Homo sapiens: one gene and its partners. The protein of the gene in region 3 purifies or fractionates together with the protein of the main gene of each other region. This does not show direct contact. Each region holds a gene or a part of one and is shown on either strand. Other genes may lie near its edges. The genes, in order: BTK, EPB41L1, SETD1B, SYT1, KANSL3 and KAT14.

Region 1 (3,867 bases), on a different chromosome or scaffold from region 3:
TGTTGCTTGGTGTGAATAAAAAAGCCAGTGGTGACTTTGGGAACTTTATTTGTCTTTCTGTGTTTCAGTTACCTAAATTGAATCCTTCTGGAGTATTGTAGGTTTGGGGAGGCTAAATAAGTTGTGTTTCATAAATGAACAGAGGTGGCATCTATATCAGTAAGACAGTTGCATCACTTTTGCATGATGCTGTCTAAAAGAACTAATTTAAGCTAAATGGGGAAAAGGTCAGAAAACAACAACTACCCCCCCCCCACCAAAACCCACCAAAAAAAATTATGTTTTCAACTTTAGAACAAATCTTCTATCCTTTGTAGCTCAGTCAGTGGGTGTGGGCAAAATCAGTTGGGCAGCAGTTAGTGTGTGTCCAGAACTGCAGGTGCAGCCTCCATATCCTTATTAGTTCCCTTGGTTACAGACCCCAGTGGGACAATGTTTGAAAAATTATATTCACCGTCTAGGAAATTGGGAACTGAAAGTCCAATATCTGCCTCAGTGGAGTTCTGGCACCTGCATTATCCCTTCTGGGTATATCAAGATCAACAGCTGCACAGATACTTTTGCTTTTCACAGATTCTACACATATCATATAAAGGTGAATAGTGTAAAGCTACCTCTACACCTTACCAAGCACACAGGTGCGTGCCATTTAACATCTAGAGCATTCCATTGCCTTATACAAGAACTCAGTTTATATGAGCTCACAACATCGAACCAATCCCCCCCCAATTCAGTGTGCATCCATTATACCTGAAACCTGACAGAGCTGGGGGCTGTGGGAGGAGGTTGGTAGGAAGAAATTATTTTGTGAGCTGTGCACATTTTTGTTCCATTTGAAACTAGGTAGCTAGGCTGAGGGGGAACCAAGAGGGATGAGGATTAATGTCCTGGGTCCTCAGGAACTTTCATTATCAACAGCACACAGGTGAACTCCAGAAAGAAGAAGCTATGGCCGCAGTGATTCTGGAGAGCATCTTTCTGAAGCGATCCCAACAGAAAAAGAAAACATCACCTCTAAACTTCAAGAAGCGCCTGTTTCTCTTGACCGTGCACAAACTCTCCTACTATGAGTATGACTTTGAACGTGGGGTAAGTTTCTCGACTATGAAAACTGAGTTTCAAGATATCAAGGACTTGGCCTTAGATCTTTCTTGGGGAAGAGGTAAATTTTCGTTGGTAGGAGGAGGGGAGTAGAATGGACCTAAGTTCTTTCAAATTCAGCAAAATATTTCCTAGCCTATAACTAGCTAAAGCCGGAAAGTCAAAGGTCCTAAGAAGCCACAAGGAAAATATTACCATGGAATCTTGGAATTGATGAGCACTCATTAAATGATTGTTGAAAATGAAATCGAAGAGTTGGAAATTGCTTCCTTACTTCCTATGAGGAAGGTACATACAGTCATTCACTCTTCCATGGTATTTGCCCTCCATTTGGTAGTCATAGATTTATAGATCTGGAAGGATTTTTTTTTCTTCCCCCACATGACAGGTCCTGGTGCCACCTCACTTTGTTGAATGATTAGATAACAAAATCTAATCATCTGGTTGCTTAATCCCTCTTAATCTTTCTCCATTTTCTTCCTCATTCTACTTCTCAGAGAAGAGGCAGTAAGAAGGGTTCAATAGATGTTGAGAAGATCACTTGTGTTGAAACAGTGGTTCCTGAAAAAAATCCTCCTCCAGAAAGACAGATTCCGGTAAGAAGAGACCAATGTCTGAGATGGGGAACAGCAGATTTGAAGAAATTTGCAACATTTAAATTCTCTGTAAATAGACTGGTGATGCTGTGCAACGTGGAACACGGTCAAGTTTCCTTTAAAAATTCTTCACTCTACCATATTGGTTATAAAGAATCTTAGCTTCTTTCCTTCATATTCAGAACATCTCACTAAACATGGAAAATTTGTTAACACAAACTTTTAAATGATGCTATATCTAGTTTTCAAACTGGTCAGAGATCATTGATTTTATTCCCTCAGTTCTCTCAGGATCAGATTTAGAGGCTTAAGTAAGTCTGAATGTCATAATCCTAGGGCTCTGAGTCACATGATATCCTTTAATACCTTACTATTTATTCTCTTCTCACTTTCCGGAGCGAGAGACATAAAACCTACTGATTTTTGAGTTCACTTTTAAAAAATATATATCAATTTCAGTATTTTCTTTTTTTCTTTTTTTTTTCTTTTTTTAGACAGAGTCTCGCTCTGTTGCCCAGGCTGGAATGCACTGGTGCCATCTTGGCTCACTGCAACCTTCACCTCCCGGGTTCAAGCAATTCTCATGCCTCAGCCTCCCAAGTAGCTGGGATTACAGGTGTGCACCACCATGCCTGGCTAATTTTTCGTATTTTTTTAGTAGAGACGGGGTTTCACCATGTTGGCCAGGCTGGTCTTGAACTCCTGGCCTCAAGTGATCCGCCTGTCTCGGCCTCCCAAAGTGCAAAGATTACAGGCGTGAGCCACCCACTGGGTCTGACCATTTTCAGTATTTTCTTGATCACAGGAGAATTGCGTATTTATTACAGAAACTCTGGAATATATAAAAAATACAAAAAGATTAAAATGATGCATAATCCTGTTACCCAGTTAAAACAACTATCAACATATTGGTGTACATAGACTTACAGATGTTTTTCTTCACTGAGAACACATACGCATACACTTATATATATGTCATATATTTAAAACATAGACTCATAGTACACATCTTGCTTTGTAACGTACTTTTTCAATGTAACGATATGTGGGAAACTTTTCCCCATGACAATAGATATTCTTTAATAACATGATTTTAATGACTGTATGGTATTCCCTATTATGGATGTATTGTAATTTGTTTAATCTCCCATTATTACACATTCGGTTTGTCTACAAGTACTTGATAGTATAAACCATGTTGAGAGGAACAATCTTGCATACATCTTTCTGTACTTTTTTTATTCTTTTCCTTATGATAATTTCCTAGAAGTAAAATTTTGTTCTTCTCTTTAAGAAAATCTGTGCACTTTGGTTATTTTTATCTTTTTATTTCATTTTCTAGAAGTGGAATTGAATTTCATACACACCTACAAGCTATGTATGAGAGTGCCTGTTTCTGTACATTTTTTCCAACACTAGATATTTTGTTATTTTTATTATTATTATTATTTTCTGAGATGGAGTCTCGCTGTGTCGCCCAGGCTGGAGTGCAGTGGTGCGATCTCCGCTCACTGTAACCTCTGCCTCCGGTTCAAGTGATTCTCCTGCCCCAGCCTCCTGAGTAGCTGGGACTACAGGCGCCCACCACCACACCCTGCTAATTTTTGTATTTTTAGTAGAGATGGGGTTTCACCAGATTGGTCAGGCTGATCTCAAACTCCTGACCTCAAGTGATCCTCCCACCTCGGCCTCCCAAAGTGCTGGGATTACAGGCGTGAGCCACTGTGCCCAGCCCAACACTAGATATTTTAAATATTAGTTAATTTGACAGCCAAGAAAAATAGCATTTCAGGTGGGGCGTGGTGGCTCACGCCTGTAATCCCAGCACTTTGGGAGGCCAAGGCAGGCGGATCATGAGCAGGAGTTCGAGACCAGCCTGACCAACATGGTGAAACCCCGTCTCTACTAAAAATACAAAAATTAGCTGGGCATGGTGGCGCGAGCCTGTAATCCCAGCTACTCGGGAGGCTGAGGCAGGAGACTCCCTTGAACCCAGGAGGCGGAGGTTGCAGTGAGCCGAGATCGCACCACTGCACATCCAGGCTGGACGACAGAGCAAGACTCCGTCTCAAAAAAAAAAAATAGCATTTTATTGCTAACTTATTTTGCAATTTCTTTTACTCATAAAGTTGGTCTACTGCTCATTTATATTTTATTTGTGAATTGCCCA
Region 2 (3,147 bases), on a different chromosome or scaffold from region 3:
TTTGGAGCTAGAAACACCTTGGTAGCTGTGTGCCCAGAGGAACCTCTCTGACCTCAGTTTCCTCATCTGCAAAATGTCATTAATGTATACATTGGAGTTGCTGTAATAACTAAACAACACCTGTGATATACTGGATCTGTGTCTTGCCTACAGAAGGGGCTCAGCAAGGTGAACCTGCTTCCTTGTCCCTCTGAGGTTTTTCCATGTTTAGAGGTTGATGAGAGTACTGAGAAAGTCAGATCGTAATTCTCCACCACCAGCCTGGTGCCTGAGGCCCTGTCTCCATGAGGGTGTTTGTCTTACTGGTCTTCATCTTCTGTTCCTTCTGCAAATCCTCCAGAAACATCTGTCCCTGCTTCAGTTAACTCTGTCTTCCTTCTTAAAGTTCTTCCTTCTTGAAGTTCTTGCTATGAGCGTGGAAAGTCACTCATGTCACACAGAACCTTTTCCCTTCTCTCCCTGCAACCTTGCAGGTCAGACGTCTGGTTTCTGCTCCATCTTCTCCCACTGGCCCACCTCCTTCAGAGAGGACCTGTCTCCCAAACACCACCAGCAAGAGGGCAGCACTTGCCTAGCTTCCTAACCTTCCAAAATTTAATGGGAAAAAATTGACCTGTTCCAAAACAGGAACCTTGGGTTTTAGTCTTGGTTTTGCCAACTTACTAAGCCTGAAGCCTCTGGGCCTCGGTTTTCCTATGTGTCAAATGAGCCAAGAAAGATCCATTTTCTGTGATTCCGTTAGCACTCGACTGCATGCAAGTAGCAGAAATGATGTTTCATCCATTAAATGGTTTTGAGTAGTTGCTATGTGCCAGGCACAGTGTTGAACACTGGAAAGACAAGAGTTAAAAGATAGCCCTTACCCTCAAGGAGATCAGAGTAGTGTGTGGTTAAATTAACAACAGCAACAATCATCATAATAAGAACAGCCAGTATTTATTCAGCACTTACTATATGCTGGGCCCTTGCTTCAGTTCCTCCCTATAATGGGAGGCAGAACCTATTTTACGGAGGAAGCAATTGAGGCTTAAAGAAGTTAAGAAACTTGCCAGGCACTGTGGCGTGCACCTGTAATCCCAGCTACTTGGGAGGCTGAGGCAGAAGGATCACTTGCAGCCAGGAATTCAAGGCTGTAATGTGCATTGATTGTGCCTGTGAATAGCTATTGCACTCCAGCCTGAGCAACATAGTAAGACTCGTCTGTTAAAAACTGTTTAAAGTAAAGGAAGTTAAGAAACTCACCCAAGATTACAGAGCTAGCAGGCCCATAGAGTGGGATTTGAACTCAGGGAGTCTGATTTCAGAGCCTGCTCCTTTAAACACTGAGTTTTGGAGCCAAACCTGGAATCCAGACTTCATTTCTTTATTTAAACACTGCTGTCTGTGGTTTAATCTCCAGGACACAGCAAGCCCACGGACAACAGAAAGGAAAACCAAATGAAAAAAGAACATCTGCAATCGTGACTAAACATTTCTTAGAGCTGACAAGATAGGAAGAAAAAGTAAAATGATGATGATCTTAGCTTCTCGGTGTTAAAGGACATTTTAACACATTGTCAGGCCAAAGTAAAAGATTACCACCTCCCTGGAAACAAGCGAGCAAACACACATGGGCTCTGGAATCCAACAGATGTGGGTTCGGTTCTCTGCTGCCACACACAAGCTGCGTGGCCTTGGAGTGCAATAGCTACTCACAGGCATGATGATTACACATTACAGCCTTGAGTTTCTCACCTCAAGAGATCCTTCCACCTCAGCCTCCCAAGTAGCTGGGATTACAGGTGCAAGTCACTCTACCTTGCTGAGTCACAATAAAGGGCATATGGTAAAGGGTAGCAAAAACAACCTCTTGCCATGTATTTTAAAACAAGTGACAGAAGTTACTAATTTTTCTTGTCCTCTTCCTTCCTTTCCCCCCACTCCCCACCCCCCATTCTACCCCATGCCTCTGGCTTCCAGGAATCCTGACCTCTGTGAAGAGATCCTGGCATTTCTGGTCCAACCCAAGCCAGAGAACCATTAAGAAGGGGCCTTCATTCTGGATTCTCCGACGCAACACTGACGTCCCAGCTGCGACGTACTGTCACTGATGAGAGACTGGGAAGGGAAAAGCATATATATATAGATATATAGAGATATAGATATATATACAGGAAACACCGCATCCTTGCACTGCTGCTGGGGCTGGCAGAGCAGTTGGCTGACAGCAACAACCGACATCTGAACACCTACATTTCCTTTGCAGACAAATTGAAGAACTGGTGGGATTTTTTTCAAGAAAAAAAATTATATAATAACTATAATCCCTTGCTCACCCCTTTCCCCCGCCAAATAAGAAACGCAAGCCAGACCACGATGATTGTAGAAGTCCCTCCCGCCCTGGTTCTGCACGTTACAGTTAGCAGACGAGCAATTCCATTTGTTCTTCTCCAGCATCTCTAAGGCCCACTTGAATGCAAAGGAAAACACTTGCACAGCAAAGCAAGAGAAGTCACAGCAGCAAGACACGCACAGTCAACCATTTTCCGAGAAAAAAAGAAAATTCCCCACTTGGAAAGAAAGAGGAGGAACACTGGATTCTTACTTTCTGGATCTTGACACTGGGCTGCAAAACCTACCTTCCTCTCTCCCGCCTCCCCTCACCCTCAACTCTCAATGTCTTGCTGTCATTTTCTGTCTCGGCTCCCTCCTCCCCCTTCCCCCTTCCCCCACCCCACACCCTTCACCCTCTGTGTCCTGGTCCTTCTGAGGGCCACTGCAGATGACTCTCCTTTGAAATGAGAAAAAGAAAAGAAAGCAAGAACAGAAAACGAAGCCACAGGAAGGGAAGTAGACATTGTATGCTTATGGTTTCTCATTATGAAGGTGCAGCTTGTAGGAGGTTTGTACGGATGTGCTTTGAAGTTATGTATATTACATATAACAGGAAAAAATATTAAAATAAACAGTGCTGGTAAGTATGAAGCTGACATTCTAAAATTATAATTATCTGACTGTGATTGATGTATCCTGAGGTTCCTAGATCTCACTGAACTGGCCCAGCTAAGGAGACCTGGACTCTGGGTGTGGGTTGGCTCACAGTAGGGGCTGACGGGTTCAGTGTAGTAATACTGTGTGTGGTGTTTGTAATTGGTTGATTGGTGGGGA
Region 3 (3,867 bases):
AACACATGGCTAGGGCCCACGGACATGCAGTTTTCAACCAAATATGGACGGAAAAGACCGGTGGGATGCGAAACCCACTGTATATGGAGGGCGATCGCCTATACGTGGGTTCTGCAAGGCAGACTACAAGCTTTGAGTATGTGCAGATTTAGGTATACCAGGGAGTGTTAGAACCAATTCTCTGTGTGTATTGAGGGACGACTGTGTTTTGTTTAATGTAATGTATTTTGTTTTGTTTATTCCACCATTAACCACAGTCTTTGAACATTGACTCAATACTAAGCCTCTATTGTGTCCCTGCTATTATTTTAGGCAGTAGCAATGCAACAGTGGACCAAACAGACAAAAATATCTGCTCCCACGGAGCAGGGGAACAGATGACAACAGATCAATTAGAAAATGAAAAACAGGTGGCAGGCTCCTGTAATCCCAGCTACTTGGGAGGCTGAGGCAGGAGAATTGCTTGAACCCGGGTGGCAGAGGTTGCAGCGAGCCGAGATCGTGCCACACTGCACTCCAGCCTGGGCGATAGAGTGAGACTGTCTTAAAAAAAAAAAAAAAGAAAGAAAAAGAAATGTGCCGGGCGCGGTGGCTCACACCTGTAATCCCAGCACTGTGGGAAGCCGAGGTAGGCAGATCAACTGAGGTCAGGAGTTTGAGACCAGCCAGGCCAGCATGACGAAACCCCATCTCTACTAAAAGTACAAAAAATTAGCAGGGCGTGGTGGCACGTGCCTGTAATCCCAGCGGCTTGGGAGGCTGAGGAAGGAGAATTGCTTGAACCTGGGAGGAGGAGGTTGCAGTGAGCTGAGATTGTGCCATTGCACTCCAGCCTGGGTGACAGAGTGAGACTGTCTCGAAAAAATAAAAATAAAATAATGTAAAAATAGAAAATGAAAAAGATGTATTCTGTGGTCGGGCATGGTGGCTCACATCTGTAATTCCAGCACTTTGGGAGGCCAAGGCTGGCGGATCACTTGAGGCCAGGAGTTCAAGACCAGCCTAGGCAACATAGAGCCCATCTCTACAAAACATTTAAAGATTAGCTGGGCGTGGTGGCACATTCCTGTAGTCCCACCTACTCAGGAGCCTTAGGCAGGAGGATCCCTTGAGCCCTGGCGGTCTAGGCTGCAGTGACCGTGATCATGCCACTGCATTCCACCCGTCTCAAAAATAAAAAAATAAGTAAATTCATTAAAAAATTAAGAAGTGTATCCTGTGACAGTGGAGATAAGTGCTAGGAAAAAAATCCTTGAAGGCTCCGACAAGTCCTGCAGAAAAGAGACTTGTTGAATTTTATTCAGTCATAGAGCAGATTTTCTTGGGCCACAGGGACTTTGTTCTGAAGACGTAGTATGAAAGGCTGGAATACATGTCTCCTGCATCTGTGATTTAGCCTAGCAACATTGATAAAGCACATACTGTGTGCCTGACACTGGGTTGGGCGCTGAGGAGTCCTTGAGGGGTTTAGCTGGAGAAGGACAGGTCCCGTGCTCAGACTCAGGGCTGTGAGCCTGCCAGGTATGGAGCACAAAATAAGGCACTGAGAGACGTTTGGATTGAATAGTAAATGTCTCGTGTTCGCTCACCTCTCTGCAGAACATGACCTGGAAGTGGAGCCGGAGCCCCCTATGATGCTCCCCTTGCCGCTGCAACCACCATTGCCGCCCCCACGACCACCCCGGCCACCCAGCCCACCGCCGGAGCCTGAGACCACAGATGCCTCACACCCATCTGTCCCTCCGGAGCCCCTTGCCGAGGACCACCCCCCGCATACTCCAGGCCTCTGTGGCAGCCTGGCCAAGTCGCAGAGCACAGAGACGGTGCCAGCCACACCAGGCGGGGAGCCCCCGCTATCAGGGGGCAGCAGTGGCCTGTCCCTGAGCTCTCCGCAAGTGCCCGGCAGCCCCTTCTCCTACCCAGCCCCGTCCCCTAGCTTGAGCAGTGGGGGCCTCCCTCGGACACCTGGCCGGGACTTCAGCTTCACACCCACCTTCTCCGAGCCCAGCGGGCCCTTGCTCCTGCCCGTCTGCCCACTCCCCACTGGCCGACGCGATGAACGCTCCGGGCCCCTGGCCTCCCCGGTGCTCCTGGAGACGGGCCTGCCCCTCCCTCTGCCCCTTCCCCTGCCCTTGCCCTTGGCATTGCCCGCCGTCTTGCGGGCCCAGGCTCGTGCGCCCACCCCGCTGCCACCCCTGCTGCCCGCCCCCCTGGCCTCTTGCCCTCCCCCAATGAAGAGGAAGCCGGGCCGGCCCCGGCGATCCCCACCATCTATGCTCTCCTTGGATGGGCCCTTGGTCCGACCACCAGCAGGGGCCGCCCTTGGAAGGGAACTCCTGCTCCTGCCGGGCCAGCCACAGACCCCCGTCTTCCCCAGCACCCATGACCCCCGGACGGTGACCCTGGACTTCCGGAACGCGGGGATCCCAGCCCCTCCACCACCCCTTCCCCCCCAGCCACCCCCACCCCCACCTCCCCCACCTGTAGAGCCCACCAAGCTGCCCTTTAAGGAGCTAGACAACCAGTGGCCCTCCGAGGCCATTCCTCCGGGCCCCCGTGGGCGCGATGAGGTCACTGAGGAATACATGGAGTTGGCCAAGAGCCGGGGGCCGTGGCGCCGGCCACCTAAGAAGCGCCATGAGGACCTGGTGCCACCTGCGGGCTCGCCCGAACTCTCGCCACCCCAGCCCCTCTTCCGGCCCCGCTCGGAGTTTGAGGAGATGACCATCCTGTATGACATCTGGAACGGTGGCATCGATGAGGAGGACATCCGCTTCCTGTGTGTCACCTACGAGCGACTGCTACAGCAGGACAATGGCATGGACTGGCTTAACGACACGCTCTGGGTCTACCATCCCTATATCCTGCTGGCATGGGGGGCTCTGCACCTTCTGGGATGCAGGAAGTCCCTGCTCACCTCTCTGGGCCCCACCACCCAGTCTGTAGCAGCCCGCGGTGCCCATGAAGGTGACAGCATGCACCACCGTCACTTCCCAAGCAGGGTTTGTGTCCCGGCACCATGCCAGGCTCCCGAGTGAATCATTGGCACGTTTTAAGGACTCCCTCTGCGCCAGGCCCATCTCACCCCCAGAGTTAGCAGGTCTCAGGGTCACATGTAACAGCAGTGCCGTGCAGCTTAACAGCACACACGGGCGCAGGGCCTCCTTGTCCTGTCCCCTTCATAACCTCAGGTAATCCCGGTAGCCTGGTGAAGATGGGGGCTATGATTCCCATTTTACATATGAAGAAGCTAAGGCTCAGAGAGGTTCAGTGACCTGTCCAAAGACACAGCTACAGGTGGCAGAGTTGAGATTTGAACCCAGGCAAACCTGGCTCTAGAGTCCAGGCTCTTCACCACCAGGCTTTCATGAGGCTTGGCTGTTCACATAGGCCAGTGAGGCTAGACCTCTCATTATCCCTGCTGTATTAGACTGATTTGTGAGCACTCAGTTTGTGTCAAGAGCTCTGCTCAAGTGCCGGGCACCATGGCTCACAGCTGTAATCCCAGCACTATGGGAGGCTGAGGCGGACGGATCACTCGAGGCCAGAAGTTTGAGACCAGCCTGGCCAACATGGCAAAACCCCATTTCTACTAAAAATACAAAAATTAGCCGGGTGTGGTAGCACATGCCTATAATTCCAGCTACTCTGGAGGCTGAGGCAGGAGAATTGCTTGAACCCGGGAGGCACAGGTTGTAGTGAGCCAAGATCGCACCACTGCACTCCAGCCTGGGTGACAGAACAAGACTCTGTCTCAAAAAAAAAAAAAAACTCTGCTAAGGACCATAAGCATATTTCATCACTTGCAGAGAGGCATCACTGTCACCCCAATTTACAGATGGGAAACTGAGCAGAAAGTTGTTAAAA
Region 4 (3,867 bases), about 43 Mb from region 3:
AAAAAAAATTAACACAACTTGGATTAAAGACTTAAATGTAAGACCCAAAACCATAAAGATTCTAAAAGAAAACCTAGGGAAAAAAACTCTTCTCAACATTGGTGTAGGTAAAAGATTTATGACCAAGACCCCAAAAGCAAATGTAATAAAAACAAAAATAAATAAATAGGACTTAAATTAAAAAACTTCTGTACAGCTAAATAAATAATCAACAGAGTAAATAGACAACCTATAGAATGGGAGAAAATATTCACAAACTATACATCCAACAAACGGCTAATATCCAAGATCCACAGGGACCTCAAATCAGCAAGAAAAAAAGATAATAATCCCATAAAAAGTGGGAATATGTGAAGAGAGATTTTTCAAAAGAAGCCATACAAGTGGCCAACAAACATATGAAAAAAATGCTCCACATCACTAATCATCAGAGAAATAAAAATTAAAACCAAAATGAGATACCACCTTACAGTCAGAATGGCCATTAATAAAAAGTAAAAAAAAAAAAAATAGATACTGGCATGGATGCTGTGAAAATGGAACTCTTACTCACTGTTGATGTATTAGGTAAATTAGTACAACTTCTATGCAGAACAGTATGGAGAGTTCTCAAAGAACTAAAAACAGTTCTACCATTTGATCCAGCAATCCCACTAATGGATATCTACCCAAAGAAAAAGAAGCCATTATATCAAAAAGACACCTGCACTTATATGTTTATTGCAGCACAATTCACAAACGCAGAGGTATGGAATCAACCTAAGTGCTCATCAATGGATGAGTGGATAAAGAAAATGTCAGATACGGATATAGAGATATAGATAGATATAGATAGATAGATCATGGAATACTACTCAGTTATAATAAAAGAACAAAATAATGTCTTTTTGCAGCAACTTGGTTAGAATTGGAGGCTATTATCCTAAGTGAAGTAACTCAGAAACAGAAAACCAAAAACTGCATATTCTCACTTATAAGTGAAAGCTAAGCTATGGGTATGCATGGGCATATAGAATGGTATAATGAACACTGGAGACTCAAAAGTGGGAAGGGGATGAGAGATTAAATATTACCTATTGGATACAATGTACACCATTCAGGTGATGGGTACACTAAAAGCCCAGACGTTACTACTATACAATTCATCCATTTAACCAAACCCCTAGAGCTACTAAAATAAATAAATAAATGAAAAGACAGCAGAAAATACATGACTAGCCCACATGAATATTACTAATGTATAGTTACCTATATACAGCATATATTACAAATCTCTTGAGGTCTTCTTTGTATCACTTGAGTTCCTATTGTTGCTATAATGAATTATTCCAAGTTTACTGTCATAAAAGCCACACACATTTATTATTTTCCCATTCTGGAGGTCAGAAATCTGAAATTGGTTTCACTGAGCTGAAATCAAGGCGTCAGCAGGGCCAATTCTCTCTTGAAGGTGTAGGGGAGAATCCATTTCCCTGCCTTTTCCAGCTTCAAGAGGCACCTGCATTCCTTGGCTCATGGTCCCTTTCTTTATCTACAAAACCAGCAACAGAGACTCTTCAAATCTCCCTCTCTCTCTTGGACTCTGACATTTCTGCCTGCCTCTTTCACTTATAAAAACTCTGGTAATTGCATTGAGTCTACACTCAGATAATTCAGGATAATTTCCCCATCTCAAGATCCTTAATCTAATCACACTTGCAAAGTCCCTCTTACCAGGCAGGGTAAGGTATTCACAGCTTCCAGAAAATAGGATGTGGTCATCTTGGAGGGGCCATTATCATGTCTACCACAAGGTATTAATTAAAACATCAGAAGCAGTTTTAAATTAATTTGCCTTGTACTTAATTATTATGTATCAATTTACCTTTGGGTCAGATAATATATGTGAGATTGATTCATTAACTAGAAAATGAAAATAAAATTTTTAATAGAGTTTTTATACTAGTCAATTATTTTCTGCTGAAAGGCCTTTAAGTTGAATGTTAAAATTGTTATTATAAACTTCCATGTAATGGTAGTTGGGTAGCAATAACAATAAACTGATAGTTTTCTGCCTGTAGCAGTATTTTGATGAGACTATTTTTGACTGAAACTCTTATTTTGTATTTAAAAAATCACTGCATTTTATGCTGTTATTTGCTTCACTGAATTATTTAATTTAATATGTTCTATTAAAGAGACTTTAAAGCTAGATACAAATTTTTTCTCCGTATACATTTTTAATATTCACATTTTTAACCTAACGACCTAAAGATAAATTTGAATTTCTCAAACTATTCAACCTATAGTTTTTCCTCTGTAAAACTGCAGTGATACTGAACAAAACTGCTGCAAAGAATAAATAAGATAATGTATCTATAACTGTAGCCAAATTGCTGGGCCATAACAGGTAGGTAGGTCTTCAATAAACTTTTAGCCTGATCCAAAATATATTCCACAAGATTTGCTGACCAATATTGAAACATGTTTCTACAAATACTGCAGATGAATAATACTGTGGGTGTTGTTTCTTAGTAAACTTGCCAAATTTTAAATATTTGGTTACTCTACACAATTAAATAAAATTTTAACATGAGCATCCAAGTAACTCTATTTACTAAAAATGGCTGTTTCTTTACATGATATATGACTAATGAGTGAAGCTATCCTATAGCTATACAAAATGATAACGTTAAGCATTTTTTATTTTGTCTATCTAAAGGTGCCAATACATTGTGAAGAAAATTCTGTTAATTTCATTATATTTAATACAGCATATTCCAACTTAAAGTTATTCAGAAGATCAACTGAAGGCAAATCTAAAAGACAGCAGTGCTTTAAGAAATAAAAGTCATAAAACAAAAGTTTTTCAGTGGTTATAAATTACTTTCAAGTTGCATTATTTCAAATTTCTTCCTGTAATCTCATGTTCCTAGCTCTTTAACTCCCTTTGATTAAATGATGTTCCTTTGCTTTCACTATTTTCTTTTTGTGAACTTGTCAAATCATCTTTGTCTTGTCTTGTACAATTTAAGAGACTTTTATGTAGCTCTCTGAGCGACTATCACCACACAAGTCCAACTGGGAGAATAATTTATGAGGTTCAAAATGAAGGGTCATTATGAATGCTGTCTTTCCCGCAATGAATACATACACTCTCTTGTTCATGCATGACAGGATTTTAACTAAATCAATGGAGATAGATGCTTTTAAATGAAGTATTATGAATGATATCATTGGTTACATAAAATAATTTACTTTTTATGTAATCTTTACCTTGTTTAATAAATTTAGAGAACTGGAAGAAAACTTCTTTAGGTGTGGGTTTATCTGTAACTGTCACATAAGTATTTCTTTGGTAGAAAACACAATTTCAAAAGTTGTAGTTTTATGTCCTTAGGTTAACATCTAGTATCCAGTCATAAGCCAGAATATTATGCATAGTAAGTATTCTGCACAATGATACTAAATGCAGAGGAAAAGCAAAGAGAGTAGATTTTCTCAATTTTGAAGAGAGGTTAATTTTTAAGTGTTTTTACTTTATCAAAGTATTCCTGACTGGTGTTCAGCAATCATTGGTTCTAGTAATGTTTATTTGGCTTTTTCTTATCATTTCAGTGCCCAGTATCTTTTTTTTTTATTACAACAGACAAATCTAATTACTTCTGATTAATCTCAATAGCTGTGATTTGGATTATGAATACTTCCCTTCCAATCTAACTGAAATCATAAATGTTTCCATGTCACCTTATTTTTTATAAGCACATGGTGTAAGGCATACCAAATAAGAAAATATATTAACTTTTATCAGAGAGACAACTGTAATAGAAAACTCAATGTTTATTTTAGTATATTTATGTATATATGTTCTATTATTTTAAACAGCCT
Region 5 (3,867 bases), on a different chromosome or scaffold from region 3:
AGCCGATAGGACATATATGTATAGTCAGCCTTTCTTATCCACAGGAGATTGGTTCTAGGACCCTCACCACTACCAAAATCCATGGATGCTCAAGTCCCTTATATGAAATTATGTCATACCGTTGGAATTCTATATCCACAGGTTTCTATCCGTGGTTGTTTGAATCTGCAAATCTGCTGTGAAGCTCACAGATAATTGAGAGCTGACTGTGGTTTTACTTTGCTGTTTTAAGCACATCTGCCTGAATAAAACTGGAAATGGTGCTACACTGGGCATTAGCAAAATGAGACATTTTTCTGTCTGTGCTTGTCTCTCTCTTTGTCCTACCCACTAACCCTACTTTGAAAGGCCTGTTGCCTGAGCCCAGCAGGGCCAAGGCATTGCAGAAACCCTCTCCTGGCCAGGCATGGTGACTCACACCTGTAATCCCAACACTTTGGGAGGCCGAGGTGGGTGGATCACCTGAGGTCAGGAGTTTGAGACCAGCCTGGCCAATATGGTGAAACCCCGTTTCTACTAAAAATACAAAAAATTAGCCGGGTGTGGTGGTGGGCACCTGTAATCCCAGCTGCTTGGTAGGCTGAGGCAGGAGAATCGCTTGAACCCAGGAGGTGGAGGTTGCAGTGAGCTGAGATTGTGCCATTGCGCTCCAGCCTGGGCAACGAGAGCGAAACTCCGTCTCAAAAAAAAATAAAATAAAATAAACCCTTTTCCTTTAAGAGAACCTTTCTTATTGCTTTGAGGCTACTTCCTTACTGCTTTGATTGTGTGAGGCGAAGTGAAAGTTGGATATTTATAATTCTTTTGGCTTAAAAAGTTCTTCCCTGGAAAGAAAGGAACAAACTTGGATTTCTCAAAATGGTCTAAAATGTATGACTGATGGTTTGCAGCAGGTGCAGAGCAAGTCCGGGGCAGTGTCTGGCACAGTACCTTTCCTGTGTGGCATCCATTGCGTGTGTGCCTAGTTGGGGAGAGCTTCCTGCCTTCTCTCTGAGGACGGGTGTCCAAGGGCAAGCACCACTGGTGTTTTAGTTGGTGGTGAGGGTGGATGGATGTGGCTGCTCTCGGGATAGTGCAAGTGATTGAGTCTCTACTGATTCCTGCTATGTCCTCTCTTAGGGGCCACATCAGCCAGCAGCCTCCTCCAAGGCCTCAGCTTCAGCTTGCAGGATATCAGCAGCAAGACCTCTGGCCTTCCAGCAAATCCCTCCCCAGGACCAGCCCCACAGGTGCACATCTGCCATCTGCTGGGCTGGGCAGGTGTAGGGAGGAGGCCTCCTCAGCTTAGTTGGTTTTGGCAGGGAAACTAGGTCTGGAGTCAGTGGATCAAGGACAAACAGCCTTCTAGCTACATAGCAGGGAACTTACAAAAGTTAAGGTCTATCATTTACTGTGTGACCTTGGGCAAGTTTCTTGACCACTCTGTTTTTGTTTCTTTGTCTATAAAATGAGGTAATAATAGTACCTCCCTCATAGAGTTGTTATAAGAATGAAATAATATATGCAAAATGCCTGGAAGAGTACCTTGCATGTAGTAGGCACTCAATACATGTTAGCCTTTAATAATATGCTGTGGGCCCTCCAAGCTCGAATGTTGCTGTTGGGCGACAGCTTCTGATCACCTGGGCTTGTGTGTCCCACAGGCCACCAGTGTGAAGTTGCCCACCCCCATGCAGAGCCTGGGTGCCATCACCACGGGCACCAGCACCATTGTCCGTACCATTCCTGTGGCCACCACTCTCTCCTCCTTGGGTGCCACTCCTGGTGGGAAGCCCACAGCCATCCACCAGCTGCTGACCAATGGGGGCCTCGCTAAGTTGGCAAGCAGCCTCCCTGGCCTGGCTCAGATCTCTAACCAAGCATCAGGTGAGTCTCTCATGAGAACTGTGGGGACTCCCAGATCTGGGATCTTTCCCCCAGGACCTTCCCATCTCATGTGGGCAAGGTATGATGTTGAAACCAGTCCCACAGGGTCCTGGCATTGACCTTTGGATTCAGCTGTGTGGACCCATCCCCCAGAGAGGTTGAGAGAACACAGGCTGTTTCCTGTTGCCTTTCAGATTGACTGATAGGGCATAGATGACCCAGCTGGGGAGGAGGCCAAGGGACTGTGTTATGTGGGGGAGAAGCTCTCCAGGAAAGGAAAGCCTCAGTAGAAGGTGGAGAGTGTGACTCAAAAATTCTGCTTCTCTCTCTTTATCTCAGGCTTGAAGGTCCCCACCACCATTACTCTGACACTTCGTGGCCAGCCGAGCAGGATCACTACACTGAGCCCTATGGGCTCAGGAGCAGCCCCATCCGAGGAGTCCTCTTCCCAGGTGCTGCCCTCCAGCTCACAGGTGAGTCTGCCAGGAAGGACTGAGGACATGGGCTTCATTATTGGGAAGTTTAAGACCAGCTGACTGGCTGATTGAAGGGGCTGCCCATGCACTGGACAGACGAGATTCAGATTCAAATTCAAATCTGTATTCTGGAGTTTGTGGCTTTATAATATTGAGCGAATCATGGACATCTTTGAGCTTCCTCTTCTACATCCCTCCCTTGATATTGTGAAGAGTACATATGTTCAAGTGGGTAGCAGTGTCTAGTATTTAATGTTTTTGTTTACTTTTCCTTTCGTTTCATTTTTTTCTCATCCTTGGTTTCATCCTTCAGAGGTTATGAGTAGAGGCTACTTGGCTAATGCTCTTTCTTTGTTTTTATTTTTATTTTTTGAGATGGAGTCTTGCTCTATCGCCCAAGCTGGAGTGCAGGGGTGTGATCTCGGCTCCCTGCAACCTCCACCTCCCCGGTTCAAGCAATTCTCCTGCCTCAGCCTCCCAAGTAACTGGGATTACAGGCGCCCGCCACCATGCCCGGCTACAACAGGGTTTCACTGTGTTGACCAGGCTGGCCTCGTACTCCTGACCTCAAGTGATCTACTTGTCTCGGCCTCTGAAAGTGCTGGGATTACAGGTGTGAGCCACCGCTCCTGGCCCTTTCTTTGTTTTTAAGGACATGGAGACAGAGATATCTCACTATGTTGCCCAAGCTGGCCTTGAACTCCAAGGTTTAAGTGGTCCTCCCGCCTCGGCCCCCAAGTATAATACTCTTTCTTTGACATTGGCTTTCTAGCACTGTGCCTTCCCATATCTTAGCATTTATTGCTGTCTTTTTAGGGCACAGCTAGGTTTTTATAGGTCTCACCCAGGAAGTCATGATTAGTTTCTCTTAGCTGATCTAATTTCCCCTGTGACCTTTTCAAGTCAAATATTTCTAATCTTAAAATGGTAATCTGAGGAGCCACTCAAAGATTAGAAGTTAAGCCAAAAAACAGTTTGAGTCTAGTACTGAGTGTGCTTTCCTTCAGTATCCGCTATACAGCCAAGGCCTTCCTGTGTCTCCCTGTCCTTTCCACCATGTCAACCTGCTTGTGAACTGGAGGTGCAGTGATAGTTCCTGAGCCATTCTAAAAGCTCTTCTGTCTCTTCCTCTTTAGGGAAAATACTGCACAGAGGTCAACACCTGACATTCGTTGGGATCATAGCTACCTTTTTTTGCAGAGGGATGGAAATGTTTTAATTTTATCTTATTTCTTATTTTTTCAATTATAAAAATGATTATGCTTATTTTAAATAATTCAAACATTATAGAAATAATTAATTTAGAAAGGGAAAGTTTCCCATGATGCTACTCCTAGAGATGATGTTCACTGTTAATAGCCTGATATGGATCCATTCAAATTTTTTTTTCTACACAAAGTATGTTATTTTATTTATTTTGTACAAATATGGGATTACAGAGTATGGACTGTTTTGTAACTTGCCTTTTTTTATAAATCATGTCGTGACACGTTTCCCTGTCTGTGTCTTTTCAGAGGCTGGCTAG
Region 6 (3,867 bases), on a different chromosome or scaffold from region 3:
AAGTCTCCTGTGTACTTTCTGTTCCCCTCAGAGGAAGCCACTTTGACTTACAGTGTTAATTATTCTTTTGCTTTTTAAATGTGTATGTCTCTAAATGATATACTTTTCGTTTAAAAAAATACTGAGTAGCAAGCATAAATCTAGCTGTGTAAGTAAATTGCCACTATTAGATGAAGTTTCCTGGAGAAGATAAGCTAAATAGTCATTCTGGGTCATTGTTGTGGACTGAATTGTGTCCCCCTTAAGCATATGTTGAAGTCCCAACCCTGGTACCTATGAATGCAGCCTTATCTGGAAATAGGCCCTTTGCAAATATAATTAGCCAAGACCACCAAGGATTGCCGGCAGCACCAGGAGCTAAGAGAAGGGCACAGAACAAATTCTCCCCTAGTGCGTACCCCAGAGAGCATAGCCCTGCCCACACTGTGACTTCTGACATTTGGCCTCTAGAACTGTGAGACAATAAATTCCTGTTGTTTTAAGCCACCCAGTTTGTGGTGCTTTGTTCCTACAGCCCTGGGAAACTAATACTTACAGTGATGTTCTGGCTTCGGCTTCCATGAACCCCTTCTGAGGTAGTCACTGGCCAAGGTCACTAGGGAGTCCTGGGAAACATGAGGCTCACCATAGCGTATGCATCAGCCAGGGCTGTGATGTATACCAGAGATGCGGCAGAAATCTGGGCAGAGGAAGTGGGATCCTCTGTATTTCCTGCCTGAGCTGACAGCTTCCTTCCAGCTTGCAGAAGGTCAAAGCAGTTATTTGTGGAGTGAGCATCATCAGCTGGTCTTTGGGGTGGGCATGGGTGGTGTACAGGAGGCTCACCTGTACATGGTGAAGACAAGCTGAGCGTAGATAAGATTCTGGGCCACGACGCCATAGGTTTAAAAGATGGTCAGTGGCAGCAAGGACTTAAGGATGATAGCCTCAATATGTGTTAGAAATACCAAAATTGTTAGAAATAGATAATCGGTGCTGCGAAGAAAAGTCAGCACAGAGACAAAAGGTATCTCAGCAAGGCCATCTTTTCTTTCTGTAGAAAGGGTGCTCAGTTGCAGATGGAACAAAGGTGAGAGCACACTTGAACACAGGAAAAGCAGACATATTTATCCCTTACGCACTTGGGTCGTCCTTACTGCTGTGTCCTGCATCCACTGGCTGGAGCGGGACCTCACAATCTTAAACTGATACCCGATTTGCTAATAGCCTAAAACTTTCCTAAATAGGTAAGTGCAGGGAAGAACAAAGAAGTTGCTTACAAAAGGTTTAAGGAAGCAATAACATTTCCAAATAAGGAAGGGGCGTAGACTGTGGGCTGGAACGTGCCTGTGAGCATGTCCAACGGTTACAGAGGATAGGGCTTAACAAAGAGTTATTAGCACAAGGCAAGGAGACTTGAAGAAAGTTAGTCTTTAAAAGAAACTGTTATTTCTAACACTTATGATTTATTCTTTAACAAGAAGGAAAACTTTGAAGAGGAAACTTTTTACTTTCTACACTATGTCTGCCCCTTGGGTCACACTTGTTCACCCTTTGTTGTGAAACTCAGCAGGGGTGTTGGGATCTCCCCTCTCTGGAGATTCTTTTGCCCTCCTCTGTATTTGATCTCCTGTTTCCTGTGGCCCATCTTTACCTTGTTATAGGTTTATTCCCTTGTTCTTAATGACTTCCTGAGAAAAGCTGCATGGGAAGTAAAATTTGAGACCAACATACTGAAAAGACCCTCATTAAGTGAGGTTGAACCTGGAATTCCATACACAGCCACATTGTCTAGGTGAGACCTCTGTTGAGGACCACTGCACTTCCTTTAGGTTTTTTCTTTGAATCTAGTCAGAGTCCCTGGGGAATAATCTTCTGGGCTCAGGATGCTGGTTGCCAAGTTGGGGAAGAGGGACCTTAGCATTCAGCTTGTCAGGTACTCACACCTCAGCCCTCCAGCTGGATCCCCTGTTAGTTCTCTAGAGATCAGACCTCCTGGCTTCTGGGGGAGGGCAGCCACCCAGCAACAGGGAGTGGAAGGATCTGGGGATCATACTGCTTTCCACATGGTGTTTGCCTGCTCCTTATTTTATTGTCCCATTTGGTCCCAGTTCCAGAGGAATCTGCTGGCTGCTGCCTGGATTTTAGCGGGTTCTGTAGTATAGATTGGGTTAGTTCTCATTTAGCTTACCCAAAGCCACTTTGGGATTTTGGTGTTAAATCAGTTACTATTTGTCCATCTGTTTACCAGTTACTGTTCTAATTAAGTCAGCTTCTATAGTTTTAGTGGGATTTTGGGAAGTAGTAAAGCTTTATATGCTTGTGTTTTAACCCAGTCTTAACTTGGAATTTTAGTATAAATTTTAATGTATTTACACAGGGAGTGGCTGTAAATGCATTTATTCAATCCATACTCTTGTTTTATATTTATTCTTTGAATGTATTCGTAGCTATAAGTTTCTCAATAAGTGCTGCTTTAGCTGTGATTCTTGACTTTTGAAATGATGTGATTTTATTTCCAATCAGTACTTGGCATTTTGTTATTTTTCTCATTATTTCCTCTTTAATCCAAAGGTTATTTAGTTGTTTTTTGGTTTTCAGATATATGAGAATTTTAAGCTATGTTTTGGTAATTGATGTGATTTCTAATGTTGTATTATGATCAGAGAAAATAGTTTATGTGATGTTCATTCTGTACCATAAAGAAAGTTATACATTCTATTTTTATTCTTTTTATAGGTCCTAACTTAAGATACATTTATTTTTCCTTATTCTTTTTTTAATATCATGTGGTTGTCCCCCCAAACAAAAAAGTACATTTTCATGCACTTATCTCTTTTTTTCTTTTGTATTGCTTATTTAAATGACATAAATCTTTACTAAATTATTCACTCGTCCTATTGTTTCTTTCTAGATTAATTTCTTGCTGGACTGCTTTCTCTAACAGTTCTTTAAAAATATGGGCTTTTTGAGGTTAATTTTGAAAACTTATACGACTAAGAATATCTTCATTTCACTTTTTCATTTAAATGATAGCAGTCATATAAAATTGTTATTTTAGTTTTTTCCATTGATATTTTGAAATTATGACTTCATTATCATCTTACATACAGTGTCACTCCTGAGAACCCCGGTACTGATAAGAAATAGAAATTTTTGACTGGGCTCAGTGGCTCATGCCTGTAATCCCAGCACTTTGGGAGGTCGAGGCAGGCAGATCACTTGAGGCCAGGAATTTGAGACCAGCCTGGACAATATGGTGAAACCCCGTCTCTACTAAAAATAAAAAAATTAGCCAGGCCTGGTGGCGCATGCCTATAATCCCAGCTGCTTGGGAGGCTGAGGCTTGAGAATCACTTGAACCAGAGAGGCAGAGGTTACAGTGAGCTGAGATCATGCCACTGCACTCCAGCGTGGGTGATTGGGTGAGACTCTCTCTCAAAAAAAAAAAATTTTTTTTGTTTCTTATCAATTAAGTGGCCTCCTTGTTTTATTCTCCCATCTCCTAAAACTTTCAGAATTTTCTCTTTGTTTTTTATCTTTAATTAGTGCATGTTAAGTGTCTTTTATTTTCTCTTTTTAAAGCTTTGTTTTCTTTTTTCTATTATTTTATTTTCCAGCACATCCAAAACACAGAAATTGTGTTTGTTCTCATTTGTCTTACTTGACAACTCTGTTCTTTTGGTCAGAGGTATTTTATATGCTTCTTGGCATTTATTCTGCTTGGTGTTCGCTGACCTTCCTGAATGTGTGGTTTGGTGTCTGACATTAAATTGGGGATATTCTCAGTCATTATTGCTTCAAATTTTTCTTCTATTCCTTTCTGTCTTCTGGTATTCCCATTGTGTGTTTATTACACCTTTTGTAGTTTTCCGCAGTTCTCGGATA

What was found.
Region 1: the proteins of SETD1B (region 3) and BTK purify together in Homo sapiens (co-immunoprecipitation; one large-scale study listed by IntAct). This does not show direct contact.
Region 2: the proteins of SETD1B (region 3) and EPB41L1 purify together in Homo sapiens (co-immunoprecipitation; one large-scale study listed by IntAct). This does not show direct contact.
Region 4: the proteins of SETD1B (region 3) and SYT1 purify together in Homo sapiens (co-immunoprecipitation; one large-scale study listed by IntAct). This does not show direct contact.
Region 5: the proteins of SETD1B (region 3) and KANSL3 purify together in Homo sapiens (affinity purification with mass spectrometry, with the first as the bait; one large-scale study listed by BioGRID). This does not show direct contact.
Region 6: the proteins of SETD1B (region 3) and KAT14 purify together in Homo sapiens (affinity purification with mass spectrometry, with the first as the bait; one large-scale study listed by BioGRID). This does not show direct contact.

What each region holds. Positions count from the first base shown.
Region 1 is NC_000023.11:101,372,366-101,376,232, reverse strand, and holds part of BTK (tyrosine-protein kinase BTK), read left to right. Parts: intron 1-918; coding exon of another isoform or gene 919-948; coding exon 949-1,089; intron 1,090-1,598; coding exon 1,599-1,697; intron 1,698-3,867. UniProt on the Homo sapiens protein: Non-receptor tyrosine kinase indispensable for B lymphocyte development, differentiation and signaling. Binding of antigen to the B-cell antigen receptor (BCR) triggers signaling that ultimately leads to B-cell activation.
Region 2 is NC_000020.11:36,227,373-36,230,519, forward strand, and holds part of EPB41L1 (band 4.1-like protein 1), read left to right. Parts: intron 1-1,959; coding exon 1,960-1,968; 3' UTR 1,969-3,147. UniProt on the Homo sapiens protein: May function to confer stability and plasticity to neuronal membrane via multiple interactions, including the spectrin-actin-based cytoskeleton, integral membrane channels and membrane-associated guanylate kinases.
Region 3 is NC_000012.12:121,820,891-121,824,757, forward strand, and holds part of SETD1B (histone-lysine N-methyltransferase SETD1B), read left to right. Parts: intron 1-1,599; coding exon 1,600-2,859; intron 2,860-3,867. UniProt on the Homo sapiens protein: Histone methyltransferase that catalyzes methyl group transfer from S-adenosyl-L-methionine to the epsilon-amino group of 'Lys-4' of histone H3 (H3K4) via a non-processive mechanism.
Region 4 is NC_000012.12:79,280,490-79,284,356, forward strand, and holds part of SYT1 (synaptotagmin-1), read left to right. Parts: intron 1-3,867. UniProt on the Homo sapiens protein: Calcium sensor that participates in triggering neurotransmitter release at the synapse. May have a regulatory role in the membrane interactions during trafficking of synaptic vesicles at the active zone of the synapse.
Region 5 is NC_000002.12:96,600,115-96,603,981, reverse strand, and holds part of KANSL3 (KAT8 regulatory NSL complex subunit 3), read left to right. Parts: intron 1-1,119; coding exon 1,120-1,229; intron 1,230-1,643; coding exon 1,644-1,866; intron 1,867-2,205; coding exon 2,206-2,339; intron 2,340-3,478; coding exon of another isoform or gene 3,479-3,508; exon of another isoform or gene 3,509-3,856; coding exon of another isoform or gene 3,857-3,867. UniProt on the Homo sapiens protein: Non-catalytic component of the NSL histone acetyltransferase complex, a multiprotein complex that mediates histone H4 acetylation at 'Lys-5'- and 'Lys-8' (H4K5ac and H4K8ac) at transcription start sites and promotes transcription initiation.
Region 6 is NC_000020.11:18,165,109-18,168,975, forward strand, and holds part of KAT14 (cysteine-rich protein 2-binding protein), read left to right. Parts: intron 1-3,867. UniProt on the Homo sapiens protein: Component of the ATAC complex, a complex with histone acetyltransferase activity on histones H3 and H4. May function as a scaffold for the ATAC complex to promote ATAC complex stability. Has also weak histone acetyltransferase activity toward histone H4.